Linked DNA regions of Homo sapiens: region 2 is linked to region 1. The links come from fine-mapping of genetic effects on gene expression. Tissue or cell type: pancreas. Region 1 holds a variant in brackets; the other region holds the start of a gene. All regions are shown on one strand. Distances are between the middles of the regions.

The links. PIP is the estimated chance that this variant, and not a neighbour inherited with it, causes the effect.
Region 2: it holds the start of ALOX12B, and the variant in region 1 is fine-mapped to the expression of ALOX12B in pancreas (GTEx, PIP 0.94).

The regions. Positions count from the first base shown.
Region 1 is chr17:8,044,749-8,052,842 of GRCh38, reverse strand. It overlaps ALOX15B (arachidonate 15-lipoxygenase type B), which reads right to left. Exons shown (of 14, transcript NM_001141.3): 6 at 7,842-8,014; 7 at 7,459-7,605; 8 at 7,157-7,360; 9 at 6,089-6,175; 10 at 5,767-5,936; 11 at 5,464-5,585; 12 at 5,179-5,279; 13 at 4,928-5,098; 14 at 3,709-4,457. The coding sequence ends at 4,278. Among named protein-coding and RNA genes, the nearest start is that of ALOX15B, 9.7 kb to the right of the region's middle. The variant T/C (reference allele first, on the strand shown) is at 3,226.
Region 2 is chr17:8,084,006-8,092,092 of GRCh38, reverse strand. ALOX12B (arachidonate 12-lipoxygenase, 12R type) reads left to right here and starts at 4,377. Exons shown (of 15, transcript NM_001139.3): 1 at 4,377-4,797; 2 at 5,873-6,077. The coding sequence starts at 4,651. It overlaps MIR4314 (microRNA 4314), which reads right to left and starts at 4,037; the gene lies at 3,946-4,037. RefSeq lists an enhancer at 4,601-5,349.

The sequences.
Region 1 (8,094 bases):
TCTATCTACTATCTGTCTACTATCTGTCTACTATCTACTATCTATCATCTATCTATCTTCTATCTACTATCTACTATCTATCTTCTATCTATCTACTATCTATCTATCTATCTATCTATCTATCTATCTATCTATCTGTCATCATCTATCTATCTACTATCTATCTTCTATCTATTTACCATCCATCATAGCCCAAGGAGGCCACCATTCTGGAGCATTAACTGGATATCCCTAGAGGTGAATGTTCTCTGTAGAGAATGTTCTCTGTAGAGGTGAAGTTCTCTGTAGAAGAGAAGAACCTTCTCTTCTCAAGGCGGGGAGGCCAGCTGAGAGCTCTAGGGCTAGGGTTGTGTGGTGTGTGTGGCGGGGGGACCTCACAGGCTCACAAGCTCACAGGCCCTGGGCAGAGGAGGTGGTGGTGGCTTCTCCAAGAGTGGTTAGGGACTGACTGCTTGGATTTTCACGGCTATGCTGCCTTGGACGCTGCAGTTTCTCCTGGAAATGATAGTTGATCCCAAAAGATATATACTGAAACAAACACCAGTTTATTGACTGGGGTGCAACTGCCCTCCAACTCACCAGTACATCCACGCATGCAACCATCCAATCACTTTCCCTTCATCCAACATTAAACAAACATTTGTTGGGTATCACTCTGTGTCAATGCAGCGCTGGGCATGAGGCCTGGCAAGTTGAGTGAGACCCAGCTCCTGCATTCAAGAAGCTCACAGTCTGGTTGGGGAGACACAGGTAAGCGATGGGCACCACAGGGTTTTAGGAATTATTTGTGCAGGAATTAATTCCTTCATTCAGCACGTACTTACCAAGCACCTGCAGTGTGCCGGCGCTGTGATGGGCAGTTGTGAACCTTGTCCTCCTGAACTGGAAGTCCAGCAATAGAGGTCAGGATGGCTAGGTCAGCTGGAAATGCCTCCGAGGGATAGGCAATGGGGCAATAGAAGGATGAAGGAGGCACACCAGCTCGTAACTGTCCCATCTTGGAAAGGACACACATCACTCCTCTGCGAATTAGTGTTCTGGCCAGAATTAGTCACATGGCCTCAATCTAACTTTAAGGCAGGCTGGGAAATGTTGGGAAGTACATGAGGTATTGGGTGAACATAAACTCTCTCTGTTCCAGGAACCAGTGGTCTCTGCTGCTCCGTGTTACGTCAAACAGCCTCTCTCACGGAACTGAATATGGAGGCAAATAACTCAAGGATGAAAAATGGTAGGCGCTTCATTATTCCCATGGCAGTGCCTGAGGACAGCATCCATCAGTTCTTGTCCCTTGTCCCCCAGATGCCTGGAGCTTCCTGGGTTTCAGTTTCTTTCCTGAAACTGCATGATTAACTTTTTTTTTTTTTTTTTTTGAGATGGGGTCTCACTCTGTTGCCGAGGCTGGAGTGCAGTGGTGCAATCTCGGCTCACTGCAACCTCTGCCTCCCGGGTTCAAGTGATTCTCCTGCCTCGGCCTCCCAAGTAGCTGGGATTACAGGCGCCTGCCACCATGCCCAGCTAATTTTTGTAGTTTTAGTAGAGACGGGGTTTCACCATGTTGGTAAGGCTGGTCTTGAACTCCTGACTTCAGGTAATGCACCCGCCTCGGCCTCCCAAAGTGCTGGGATTATGGGTGTGGGCCACCGCGCCCGGCCTTTTTTTTTTTTGAGACAAGATCTCGCTCTGTTGCCCAGTCTGGATTACTAGAATGCAGTGGTGTGATCACTGCAACCTCTTCCTCCGTGGATCAAGCAGTCCTCCCTCCTCAGCCTCCCGAATAGCCAGGGCTATAGACGTGAGCGACCACGCTCTGCTACTTTTTAATTTTTTTTGAAGAGATGGGGTCTCACTATACTGCCCAAGCTGTCTTGAAGTCCTGGGCTCAAATAATCCTCCTGCCTTGGACTTCCAGTGCTGGGATCACAGGCTTGAGTCCCTGCGCCTGGCCTGCATAGTCAGCTCTTTAACTTCTCAAGGAACTCCATTTCTTTTCCATTAACTCCTTTATTGCTTAAGTTAGCAGGAATTGATGGAAAGAAGTTTGACAGATACATATATCTCTAAATCACTTTCGGTATACTCACTCTCAACGAGGAATGAGCATGTCAAATGCCACTTGCCAGTCAGCCCTACCCTTTCTGAGGCACTGTTCTGTTTTTTTCCAATGGTAATGTTTATGCAGTTATAGTATATAAATTGCATTTTTGTCCACATTGTTTTATAAAAATCAGTGAAACTGAAAAACAAAAGCACTCATGCCTGCAATGTGTAGTAGTGATGGAAATCATTAGATGAATTGTAAAGGATGCATTTTGTTTTTACACCAAAAAAGCAAAGGCAATTTTAAAATTTGGAAAGTGCTGGTCAAGTATTTTGCAGAATGTCCCTCAATCTGGGTTTGTCTGTATTTTTCTCATCACTAGACTGTAGTTATGAGTTTCTAGAAGAAACCACAGAGATGAGGTGCTCTTCTTACAACATTAGAGCAAAGCAACATGGTATCAGCAAGTTCACCTGGATTTTTTTTTTTTGTTTTGACACAGAGTCTCTCCCTGTCACTCAGGCTGGAATACAGCAGCATGATCTCGGCTCACTGCAACCTCTGCCTCCTGGGTTCAAGCGATTCTCCTGCCGCAGCCTCCTAAATAGCTGGGATTACAGGCGCCTGCTACCAAGCCCGGCTAGTTTTTGTACTTTTAGTAGAGATGGGGTTTTGCCATGTTGGCCAGGCTGGTCTTTAACACCTGGCCTCAAGTTATTCGCCCGCCTCGGCCTCCCAAAGTGCTGGGATTACAGGTGTGAGCCACCACGCCTGAACTCACCTGGATTATTTGATTAAGGTGATGTCTACCAGGTGTCGCCACGGGAGTTTTTTTTTTTTTTTTAAAGGACACTTTTTTACCTTAATGGATGCTCACCGACTATGAGCCAGAAAAAAAAGAAAAACAGAATGAAAGAATGTGTATGAAATGTAAATCCATCAGTGATGATGAAATCTAGCAGCAAAGTATGATTAGAGATATGACAATGTTTTCTGATTCTCTGGAAACGGAACCTGCCTTATAACGTACAAGTCTTTAACTTTAGGGGATGTTTTTAAGAAAGTATACATAGGCACTGCCTGTGCCGACTGGGTGTTCTCATTCTGCCTGGCTCCCAGTGACCCTTTTTCAGTGTTTTGTTCACTTTAAAGCTGAGACAGTAGGTCACAATCAACCTCTTGGG[T/C]ATTTTTTGTTTTCATTTTTGTTTTTCTGAGACGGAGTCTCACTCTGTCACCCAGGCTGGAGTGCGGTGGCATGATCTGGGCTCACTGCAACCTCTGCCTCCCAGGTTCAAGTGATTCTCCTATCTCAGCCTTCCAAGTTGCTGGGATTATAGATGTGTGCCACCACGCCTAGCTATTTTTTGTATTTTGGGTGGAGACCGGGTTTCACCACGTTGGCCAGGCTGGTCTTGAACTCCTGACCTCAGGTGATCCCTCTACCTTGACCTTCCAAGGTGCTGGGATTATAGGTGTGAGCCACCACGCCCGGCCTTGTTTTTTTTTTTTTTTTTTTTTAATAGAAACGGGGTCTTGCTCGGTTACCTGGGCTGGAGTGCCGTGGCACAATCATAGCTCACTGCAGCCTCAAACTCCTGGGCTCAAGCAGTCCTCCCACCTCAGCCTCTCGAGTAGTTAGGACCACAGCCACATACCACCAGGCCCAATTTGTTTTTTAATTTTTATTTTTTGGTAGAGGTGGAGTCTCGCTATGTCGTCCAGGCTGGCCTTGAACTTCTGACCTCAAATGATTTTCCCGCCTCCATCTCCCAAAGTGCTGGGATTATGGGCATGAGCCACTGCGCCCAGTCTCTTTGGCAGCCACTTCTTGGTGGCTGTCCTTGAGTTGGGTGACCATAAGGTCCAATCAGTGGATGCTAGTGGGCCCTGGGGCGGGATTATGTGCTTCCCCCCACGGCTGTAAAACGCAAAACAAAACCAACTAGCAAAACCCTCAAGGTGGGCTCTGCGGGCACTTTGAGGCTTGGAGCCTCCAAAAGACTCAGTGGTTCTGTCCTGAGACTCTGTTCTTGGTAGATTTTCTGCTTTCTCTGTTTTGATTTTGTTTCTGTTTTTGTGTGTGTGTATGGTGGTGGGGGTGAGTTACAGAGTCTGGTTGTCCCAGGAGAGGCACATGGGGGCCTGTTTTTTCTGAGGAGTCCTTTTCTCTGGGTGCCAGTTATCCTAGAGCGATGTGGTCAAAGGGATGTCATCTGGGCCTGTGTTCCCCTGGGATTTAGATGGAGACGCTGTTCTCGATGAGGGGAGGGTCTAGGTAGGTGTAGGGCAGCACCAGGCCCTGGTTCCGCTCCTGGATGCCCCTCGAGATCTGGGCCAGGCGGCTCTGGAAGGTGGCGATGCTCCGCCGAGGGGCCTCCTCTGTGAAGTGCTCATCCGGATAGGTGCCCAGGGGCCTCTGAGGATCCACCACAAGGTTGGGTGAGGCGGCTGCTGAGGTCCTGCATCCCAGACTCCTGGTCCCCACTATCTGAGCAGCTGCAACTTGCCTTAGCCAGCTCTGGCCCTAGCCCCCAAGTGTGGGACCTGAAGTAGCCCTCGATGGGGCCTGATCCATGTCCCTCCTCTTAAACAGATATCCATGTAAAGCTTATCTGCAGGAAGCTTTCGGGGAATGAAAGCTCAATTCGGAATTTCCAAGAAGCATAATTACACGTTCCCCTTGCTACTGAGAGTGGCTCCGCATCATCGCATTTGGCCATTTGACCTTCACTGTGAAATGTCCAAGGCTCATGTGTCCCACTGGAGGGTCAGTGGGGCAAAGGGACCCGCTACCTGATGGCAGGGTTGGGTCTGGGCCAGCAGGGTAAACATCACACCCTCTCTTACCCCAATTTGGCCCAGCCTGGCCCCCAGCCCCACACTCACTTGGTCTCCAGGCTCCTTGCTCAGCAACCAGAGAGCAAGGATGACATCACATGTGGCATTGACAGGTGGGAGGGTGGCTATGAAGCCCTCGCATGTTGCCAGGCCTTTGGAGGTGGGTGGTGGCAGCTGCATGCTGGGTGGCAGGTTGGGCATCCAAGCACAGGAGTCAAACTGAAGGCCGAGAGGGCAGAATGAGGCTGAGGAGCTGGGTCACCTCCAGCCTGCCACCTCGGGCGCTGGCCTTTCCTCACCTGCCCTGCACTGACAGCCGCATGCTTGGCGGAGCAGGTGAATATCACCATGGTGACATACTGCACCAGGGCTTCCCGGGTCTCCAGTGAGGAGGGTATACCTGCAAGGAGAGCTGGGCTGGGATGGGGCTTCCAGGGACCTGAGGACCCTGCTGCGGAGGCTTGAGGGTGAGCCTTGAGGGTGGGGGACACGGGGACGGGGCCACTCAAATGCGTGCTCTGCAGGGGGTGGGGGACACGGGGATGGGCTCACTCAAATGCGCCTGAGGGCTGAGGTCCCTGTACCTGAGCTCTCCTGGTTTAGGAAGCCCTTGGAGAAGATCTCTCTGACCCAGGCCTGGAGCTCTCTGTCATCTTGGACAGACTCATCACTTGGGTAGTAGATACCGATGATTTCAGAGACAAAGCTGCAATGCATCCAGGTTCAGGTCCAGCCTCCAACCCCGACCCGCTCTGAGGAATGCCTCTGCTTAGCATCATGAATGTCTGGCCCTCCTCCTCAACGTGAGCCTCCCTGGGGCCTCAGTCTCCTTTCCTGTCTTCCCACGTCCCCGACCAGCCCTCGGCTCTCCAGGGACGGCCCCTCACCGTTCCACTGCACCCCAGATCTGCATCCCATCATCACGGTAGTAGTAGCCTGGGATGTCTTCAACTCCTCGGGTCCGGATATCCTCAGGCAGACACAGGAGAGAATAGTTCAGCTGCTTCATGTTCCTCTGTATCAACTCAGAGAAGCCTTCAATGCCGATGCCTGTGGACTGAGAGACAGGACTCTTGGGTCCTACAGACCTTGCTCCAGAAGCAGGAGGTAGCACTGGTGTCGGGGAGATGGGCCACTCCTACCCCAGGACCTCAAATTCGTCACATTGAAGGAGTGGCCTGCCTACTCCCTCCCCAACACAGCTCTCACCCTGTCCACCACCTGCCCTGGCACGATAAGCAGCTCCCGGGCGAGTGTGTTGATGTGCAGGGTGTATCGGGTGTGCGGGATCAGCAGCTGCATGGCAGGAAAATGGCAGAGCTAGGGGAGGCCTGGGTTGTTCTGGCCCCAGACCTTCCCCCACACAGGCACCAGCCCTGCAAGTCACTTGGAAAGAGGCAACAAGAATGAGAGGAGGCAGCCTGGGACAGGGGTCTGAGCCCTGGAGTTCCTGCTGGGCTCCACCAGCAGCTTGTTCTGGGAGCTCAGGCGTGCTCCTTCCTCTCCCTGAGCCTCAGGTTGTTTTGTCAAATGTGGGTGCTGATGTGGCTGAGCCCTGTGTCTTCCGGCTCTGGCATCCTGTGATTTCCTAGCCCCTAGGCAGGGAAGGCACTAGGAAAACCAGGGCCTGTGGGCCTGGCAATGTGGAGCCGTCCACCAGAGCCCACCTCTGAGCGCCAGGCCTCAGAAGCTGCAGATAGTCAGAAAGAACCAGCTAGTACAGAAGAGCACAGAGTAGGGCCCGCATCTGGGACCCAGGAGAAGTCTAGAAGGATCAGAGAATCTGAGCAGCGACTGTGGGTGGACCCTGGGAGGGGGCCATCCTGCCCTTCACAGAGGAGATGCCTCGAATCCATGCCGTCTGAAAGCTAGCAGGGTCTAGGAAACCTACAGAACCCACCCTAGAGCACGGGGGCCTCCCACCCAGCCCTCCCCTACCCCAGAAGTATCTGCAGAGAACTTGTTGGTCTCTCAAAGCCATGTTCAAACTTTGGCACCTGCCAGCCCCAGGTCCTTCCCCTTCCTAAGATTTGGGCTTCTATGACGGCTGTTGATGCTGCCTGATCTCCCTTCGAGAGCCTTTCTGGGGTGCTGCATTTATGTTACTTAGGGCCTGCTGGATAGCAGGCTTCCAGGGGAGTTGTGCCAGGAGATGCTGCTGAAGCGGACGGGGGCTCTGCATCCCAGCTTGCATGGATAGGGCCATGTGAGGAAAGGCTGCTTAGAAGAGGCACAGAGGCATGGGCACAGGCTGGGCCACCTTGTCAAGCCACTGACCTTGAAGAGAGGGTGGCAGTGGGGCAGCTGACGCAGGGTAGCCAGGGTGAAGACCTCAGGCAGCAGATGTGAGTGCAGCAGGTGCGTGAGGGCCTCATGGAAGGAGAACTCGGCATTGCGCACCCAGGTCTTGGCCAGCAACCAGTCCCACTTGTCATCAGTGGGCAGGAAGATGGGGCTGTTTGGGCCGGGGGTCTGGCTGAGCTGGGGGGAGGCAGGTGGGGAGAGAGGCAGCCATGAGTGTCTTCCAACCATTCTCCTGACTCTTCTTCACGCTGCCCTGCCCCTGCCTGACTGCATACCTGGATGGCGAGAGGCAGCAGCGGCCCGCAGCCTGGGCTCTGGTATAGCAGGGTCATTGGGGCCGCAGAGAACTGAGGCTTCCCATTAATGACATTGGTCTGGATGCCAGAGAGGATGCCGTGATCCACCAAGAACAGGGAGCCCTTCTGCAGAAGAAAGGAGATCTGGGGCTGCCACCTGGTTTTCTAAATGAAGGGGGTGCAGTTGTAGAAGGGAGAGGATTCAGGGCTGGGAGAGGAGTGTGTTTCGGGAGAGTGTGCTTGGCACGCAGCACGCGGTAGGTCCCTAACAAATGTGAGTGTGCCCCTCTGTCTCCAGTAGGGGACGGGTGTGAAGGCACTGAGATGGGACTGTGCAGAGCCAAGATCCCTGCACCCCTCACCTCTAGCTCAGCCTGCAAGCTGGTCCCAGGACCCAACACTGAGGCCACCATGGCATCAGTGACGGGGAAGTTCTTTGGGAGGTAGTGACAGCGGCGGATCAGGACAGGGTTGAGACCATTCAGGAACTGGGAGGCGAAGAAGGCGTCCTCCTGCCAGTGCTCAAATGCGTGCTCTGCAGGGGGTGGGGGACAGGGGAACGGGGTCACTCAAATGCGTGCTTTGCAGGGGGTGGGGGACACGGGGACGGGGTTA
Region 2 (8,087 bases), 39 kb before region 1:
AGACGGAGTCTCTCTCTATTGCCCAGGCTGGAGTGCAGTGGCGCTATCTTGGCTTACTGCAATCTCCACCTCCCCTGTTCAAGCGATTCTCCCGTCTCAGCCTCCTGAATAGCTGGGATTACAGGCGCGTGCCACAACGCCCGGCTAATTTTTGTATTTTTAGTAGAGACGGGGTTTTACCATGTTGGTCAGGCTGGTCTTGAACTCCCGACCTCATGATCCGCCTGTGTTGGCCTCCCAAAGTGCTGGGATTATGGGCATGAGCCACCGCGCCTGGCCCTTGGATTCATTTCTACGGACAACCCCATTTTAAGCTCTGGTGAACTTTAAGCAGGGGAGTGGCGTGATTTGATTTTTCTTTCTCTGTGTCTTAGGAGAGTGGGTCCCCAGGAGTTAGTTGCTCCTTGCCTTGCAGGGCTTGGGGTGGGGTCAGGCACGGGGGATACCCCAGCAGTGAGAACTCAGCTTCCTGTGTGGATGGCCCCTAGTTAGCAACCCCAGTGAGTGTGAATCCTTCCCAGAAACCTCTCCTCCTCACTGGCTCCCGCCCCTGGTCCAGGAGAACCAGTTCTTCAGCCCAATGAGCACCTATCAAGAGTCACGCGTCTACGTTTTGGTCATAGCTGGGGAGTGCCCCATCTACATCCTCATGCCTGATCCCGTCCCTGTCCCTGCCCCAGCCACATTGACATCCTCAGCATCCCTGCCTCCATCTCCGTCTCCCTCAGGAACCTAATTCCCACTCCACACTGGAGCCCTGAGCAAACCCAGGGCCACCCTGGGATTTGGGTTGGAGGAGACCTATTGGTAGCAGGATATGACTCAGTTTGCCCAGTCCACTGCCCTGCTTCTCACCAAGCCTCAGCAGCCCCCTGGGGACACAGGGCAAAGGGGAGAGATTAGAAAGAGGAAGCTGGGAGAATTTGCATGGAATTTGCATCTTAAGATTTGCATCTTCAGGCTCCCAGCATCCTCCAAGAGTCATCGAGGTGGTTGAGGAGGGAGATCCCAGGGGGGAGATCCAGCTGGACGGCTTCTGTCTGCAGCCCAGGACAGCCAGCCCTGCCACCCAGAGCTGGGCACAACCCTCATCCTCAGCCTTCTCCCCTCTCCTCCCTCCCTCCCCACCCAACCCCTTTCCCTCCCCTACACCACGCCTTGCCCCTTCTCTCACCCTGAGCCCAAGTCAGCTCTCTTCGGATCTTCACCATAACTCCAAAGCCATCATCGATTCAATCCCCAGCCCTGACCTTGTCCTTGTCATTAACCCATTCAACTATGTTTTCGGTGTCTCCCAGGTACCAAGTATGACACCAGGAGATGGGGACAAAACCAAAAAAAAGTATGGACTAATTTATTAGAGAAAACAGACATCAATCAAAGATGTTAGCTATAGTGCTGTGAGAGCCATGTATAGTGAAATTTGGCTTTCCTGGAAAAAGCAATTATTGAGCTAAGATCAGGAGGAAGAGGAAACGTGACCTCAGTTTGAGAGGTAGAGAGGGAACAGCATGTGCCAAGGCCCTGGGATGGTGACGAGCTGACTTCACTTCCTTCAGGTCTTTACTCAAAAGTCTTCTTCCCAAGGAGCCCTCCTTGGCCACTCTGTATCTAAAATATCCTCCTTTTCTTTTTTCTGAGATGGATTTTCGCTTTTGTTGCCCAGGCTTGATAGCAATGGCATGACCTTGGCTCACTGCAACCTCTGCTTCCTGGGTTCAAGCTATTCTCCTGCCTCAGCCCCCGAGTAGCTGGGATTACAGGCATGCGCCACCATGCCCGGCTAATTTTTATTTTTAGTAGAGACGGGGTTACTCCATGTTGGTCAGGCTGGTCCCGAACTCCTGACCTCAGGTGATCCGCCCACCTCAGCCTCCCAAAGTGCTGGGATTACAGGCATGAGCCACCATGCCCGGCACTCCTCTATTTTTTATATTATCCTTCCCTGTTCTCTCTTTTCTCTTCAGCACTTATCACTATTTAACATACTATTTAATGTATTTGGTTACTAGGTAATATTGTCTGCTTCCCTCACTTGAAGGCAAGCTCCATGGGTGCAGGGGTTTGCTTTGATCGCATTGTATTTTCAGGACCTGACACAGCGCTGAACACACAGTAGGGGTTCGGCCAGTGTCTGTTGATGAATGAATGAAAGGCACGTGGTCCCAGACAGAAGAGAGCAAAGGGGAATGTGAGGGGTGAAGCCAATCAGGCAGGCCGTGGGGGCCACGGGAGGGGATGGTGTCACTGTCCCAAAGGTAAAGAGGAGCCACTGCCAGGCTTGATCAGGGTTGGGAGGAGGGAACATAGAGAGTGATGTGAACAGATTTGGGTCTGGAAAAGATCATTTCAATCCCCAACTCCAGCCACATCTGTGTCTCTAACCTAAACCTGAATTGCAGTTTCGACCCCATTCCACATCCAGTCTGGAACCTACTGGAACCTTCTCTTCATCTCACAATCCCAGCCCCCTCTGACCCTAACTTGGCCTGGGCATTGAATGACCTTCCTTCGATGGTGATGGAAGCGTGCCATCAGGGAGGAAAGCAGGGCTATGCTTCCTGGTTGACAGAAGCTGCTCCTCGGAGGTGAAAGGAAAGAGGACAGGTCCAGAAAAAGGGAATAGGAACGTGCCTGCCTCCTCACTCTCCCTGGGTCCCAAATCCTATCTTTGGAGAGTCTATCTCTGACTCTCTCATAATGCTCTTCACCTTACTCCTAACACCTTCTCCCTATCCTGCGGCTCTGACTTCTGTGATTCTATCAGCAACTAGTTCCCAATCCCAACCTCCCACGCTTATTTTCTTCAGAGCACTTAGTATCCAAAATTATAGTGAACAAATTCTTGTTTACTGTTTCTTTCACTTCTTTCCCAGCTATTCCGTAAGCTCCATGTATGTTTCATTTCTTCTCTGCCTCTGCAGTGCCTAGAACGCCGTGCACCGTGCTCACTACATATCTGAGGGAGGAACGACCTGGTTCCCAACAAACACAGTTCCACTGGAGCTCAGCCCTGCCTCCAGCCCTCTTCCTAGCTTCATTCTTTTTTGGGAGGGAAGTGAGGGTATGTACTTTATGAAATTAAAGGATAACACATAATGAAATGAATGAAGTACCCTAGACGCCCCTCAGATCAAGATAAGAACACCTCCAGCAGCCTATATGGCCTCCCTCTGCCAGGGATACTCACCAGTAGAGGTTGTCTGAGAATTGCTCAGTTTTGCTGGTTCTGGAAGTTCCTATCAATGGATAACAGAACGTATCCCCTTTAATGTCTGGCTCTTTTTGCTCAGTATCATCTTTGTGAGACTCATCCGCATTGCAGTTCATTCTTTTTATTCCTGGGTAGAATTCTATTTTATGATTATACCACAAAATATTGATCATATTAATCCATTATTTAACTTAATTCTTTTGTCTTTTTTTTTTGGAGACGGAGTCTTGCTCTGTTGCCCAGGCTGGAGTGCGGTGGCACGATCTCAACTCACTGCAACTTCCGCCTCCTGAGTTCAAGCGATTCTCCTGCCTCAGCCTCCCAAGTAGCTGGGACTACAGGCGCATGCCACCACGCCTGGCTAATTTTTGTATTTTTAGTAGAGACAAGGTTTCACCATGTTGGCCAGGCTGGTCTCGAACTCTTGAGCTCAGGTGACCCACCTGCCTTGGCTTTCTAAAGTGCTGGGATTACAGGCGTGAGCCACCACGCCCAGCTATTTAACTTAATTCTTATGCCCCAGATTTCACTCTGTCTTCTAATTTAGTTTTTTTTTTTTTTTTTTTGGGCTTCTGATTTTATATCCAACTCCAATCCCTCACCAGTGGATCCTGGCCCCACAGGAAGCAACAGATCCCCTTCTCCTACCCTGATCGTTCCTCCCCGCAGCATCTTCAGGCCTTTGGGCACCCATGTGGTCCCCGAGCCCTAGCTTCAACACCTCCCACCCTTCCAGTCACAGACTCTGGGCCCTGGGGCAGAAGGACAGGCCAGCTTTCTCACTGTGGCCACTACCTGTCCCATTTCCCAGAGAGGAATGGCCTGGAGGCTGGCCAGCTGCGCTGCCACTTAGTGCCCCTCCCCCTCCCCTCCCCCGCCCACCAGTGGCCTCAGAACCAATGCAAGTCACTCACTGCCCATGGCCCTGCTTAGTAGGGGTGCCTGGCACTGTAGCCAATGGGGACTGGCAGGAGGAAGGAGCTTATTAGTCTGATAAAGATCTGGGGACCACACCCTGCCCCCTCCCGCAACTTCCCTAGGGCCCTGGCTCAGGCTGGACTGGCTCCCCCACCCTGAAGGCGCCTTCATCCACGGCATCTTCTATCCGCCCTTTCAGAGGCAGGCCCAGTGCCCTGCCTGCTCTTCCTCCCCACCAGCTCCCAGAAGGCTTGGAGCCCAGACACCTGCTCACTCACCACCAGCTGGGCTCCGCCTGGGCCTGCCCGGCACCCACCCCGGCCACCAAGGGCAGCAGCTTTTCCAGAATTTGGCTGGCAGGCCTAGTCACCCCACCTCGCCACCTCACCACTGCACCTCGGAGGCCAGCCCTGTCCACTCCACTCTGTGCCTGGCTTCTCTTGCCTGCCTTGGGCCTTCGTGTGGCCCCTCCACGGTGTCTGGGACTGAGTGCCCCTCTTGCCTCCTGAAGAGCAGCCATGGCCACCTACAAAGTCAGGGTGGCCACAGGCACCGACCTCTTGTCGGGAACACGGGACTCCATCTCACTGACCATTGTGGGGACACAAGGAGAGAGCCATAAGCAGCTGCTGAACCACTTTGGGAGAGACTTTGCAACTGGGGCGGTAAGAGTGTGTGTGTGTGTGTGTGTGTGTGTGTGTCTGTGTGTGTGTGTGTGTGTGTCTGTGTGTGTCTGTGTGTGTCTGTGTGTCTTTGTGGCCCCGGGAGGGGTGAAGGTGCGCAGGGGGAGCCAGGTGAGCTGAGCTTGGCGAGGAGAGGCTGGAGAGCTGAGGCACAGCTCCGAAGGCAGTGGGCTCCCCAGTGGCTCTACACGCCTTGTCCAGAGCTGGCTTCCAGCCCCTCGCCCATGTCCCAGATCTCTGGGCCATCCTTCTCCATCCTGCTCCTTCATCTCTAACCCTTTCAGGCATTCCTCATCTCCCTCCCCATCCTTTTCTTCTCTCTCCCTCTTCCTCAGCCCTCTCTCCCTGTCTCTGCCTATCCTGCATCTCTCTTTTCTCAATCCTTTCCACCTGCTTTCCTTCCCCTTTGCTCTCCTCCCCTTTCTGTCTTACCCCCTCTCCCGCATCCCTCTCTCTTCCATTCTCAGTCACTCTTCCTAATTCAGCTGCCTCCTAACTGTCTCACATTTGCACTGGATTCTCTGTGACTTAAAATGGCATCAGACCAGCCTGTCCAGTGGAAGGCACGCTTTGCGGGTCCTCAGACCTGATTTTCAGTCAGACCCAGCCACCTGCTGCTAGGCGACCTTAATAGGTCACTCTATCTATGTGGCCATTCTGAATATCTGCATCTTCATTGATGAATGGGAGAAGGGGCTGGCTGGGCCTCTCCCCACTCGAAAACTGTAGAGTGGTACCCAAGTCCCCAGGGGTCTGAAGGGTTCCTGCAACCTCAGGTGCCTGGAGAGGGGAGTGGGAGAAGACAGGAGCTGGGGATGGAGAGAAGGAGGGGCTGGAGTCCTACATAGCCCTGGGTAGAGGAATCCAGTAGGAGACCCCCAAGCTGGAGAAGTCAGAAGGAAGCTCAATGATCAGGTCAATATCCTGTCCCTCCGTCAGTCCAGGGAGGTGAGCATTGCGCAGCATGAGCAGGGCCTAGGTGAGGGGCCAGAGGGGTGGGCGGCCTGGGAGCCGGGGTGAAGTCCTGCCCACTCAGCCAGGCTTGCATCCTGCCTAGGTGGGCCAGTACACCGTGCAGTGCCCTCAGGACCTGGGTGAGCTCATCATCATCCGCCTGCACAAAGAGCGGTACGCCTTCTTCCCCAAGGACCCTTGGTACTGCAACTATGTGCAGATCTGTGCCCCCAACGGCCGTATCTACCACTTCCCCGCCTACCAGTGGATGGATGGCTACGAGACCCTGGCACTCCGGGAGGCCACAGGTAAGCCCTCATCACCCTGCTCCATCCTATGGCCGTGAGGCCTCTAGCTCCAGCCTGCTACCCTGGCATGGCACCCAGGCTCCCATCAAGCCAGAGGGGGGCCCAGCCCCACCAGGGACTCCTGGGCTCTCCTGCCACTGTCACACATTTCCCTCAGTCAGTGCTGCTGCCCTGAGCTCAGCTTGGGGCTGCACATTGGAGGAAGAGAGGTGCCTGAGGCCCAGCAGCTACCCTCAGCATCCCCATCTGGCAGCAGACAGCATTCCCAGAGTGCGCTCCCCGCTACCTCTCCAGTCCTCCCTGACTCCTATAAGATGCCCGGCCACGTTAAAAATACCCCTTGTGATGCTAAGTACAGGCTCAGGACTCTCACAGGAGGCCTATTTATGATGCCAATCATATGCGCTCCAGAAAGACGCCCTGTTACTCCAGCAGGATTCTGTTACTATAACAGGATGCCCCATTATTCCAACCAGCACCTTGCTATCCCATTTAGAAGCCCTTTGAGTTCAACAGGTCTCCGTGGTGCTGCGGTCTTATAATTATGACGCCCTGGCTTTCTTTTTTTGAGACGGAGTTTCACTCTTGTTGCCCAGGCTGGAGTGCAATGGCACGATCTCGGCTCACTGCAACCTCCACCTCCCAGGTTCAAGCGATTCTCCTGCCTCAGCCTCCTGATGCTAGTTTTTGCATTTTTAGTAGAGATGGGGTTTCACTTTGTTGGCCAGGCTGGTCTCAAACTCCTGAACTCAGGTGATCTGCCTGCCTCAGCCTCCCAAAGTGCTGGCATTACAGGCATGAGCCCCAGTTTTCTAATTGAGCATTTTTTAGACTGATGGGATGTTCTATTGCTCCAAAGGACTCCCTATTTTCCCAACAGGACACCATATTTCTCTAACAGGATGCACTGTTACTCCAAAAGGCCCCCCTTAATCCAGTAAGGATCTATCTAATAGGGGCCCTGTTATTCAGATAGACTGTCAGGGTTTCTCCAAGGTTAAGGCTGGCCAAGGCTGCCCAGTGGGTTTTCCACTTGCTTGGTTACTCCCATGGGAGAGACATAGGACCGGAGTGGCTGAGCTCCTTGCACCCACCCCTGCCAGAGCCCCTTGTGTGGTGGGCTGGGGTCAGCTTCCTAATTTGTGGTGCTGCATGAGGACTGGGGGCCTGTCCTCTCTTATCTCCCAGTTCCACCACCTGAGTGTCTGTTGGCTTCCCTTGAGGCGAATGGGAGGGAAAGGCTGAGCTGAGGACACCCAGGGCCCGAAGCCCCATCCTCCCTGCAGCTGACTACCTCTCTTCCGTTTCTCATTGCCCTGTGCTGGAATCTTCCCCCAGGATTGGGGAACAGGGCCTGAGCTGGGGAAAGGAGAGGCGAGGAAAGCCTGGGAGATGGTGAGCATGCCAAGGGGAGGGTCTCACTGGGGACACAGAGCATCTTCCTGCAGTGACAGGTCTGGGTGACATGGAAGCAGGGGACAGGCAGGGTGATGCTGGTGGCCAGGCAGGAATGGGGTTGGGTGGGGCCGCTGCCACGCAACAGGACAGGGAGACTTGAGTCACCCATAGGGCCCTCAAAGGAGTGAGTCTTCCGCCCTGGGGATGAAAACGAGCTAGGTCTCTGGGTTGCACAACTCCAGGGAGCACTGTTCATCCAGAATACAACATGAGCTGAGGCAGGTGGAGGAGGGAGAGGGTGGTGAGGTAAGGGACTTGAGGGGAAATGATGGGCTGCAGCGGTAGGCACAGGCCAGCCTGGGGACCACCAGCCAGGGTGCTGGAGAAAGACGGACCTGGACTTAGGTCTCAGTTCTTCCACTGACTAGCTGGACATTTGGGCATATTTTCAAATTTTTTTTTTTGAGATGGAGTCTCGCTCTGTCGCCCTGGAGTGCAGTGGCGCAATCTCGGCTCACTGCAACCTCCACCTTCCAGGTTCAAGTGATTCTCCTGCCTCAGCCTCCTGAGTAGCTGGGACTACAGGCGAGTGCCACCACGCCCGGCTAATTT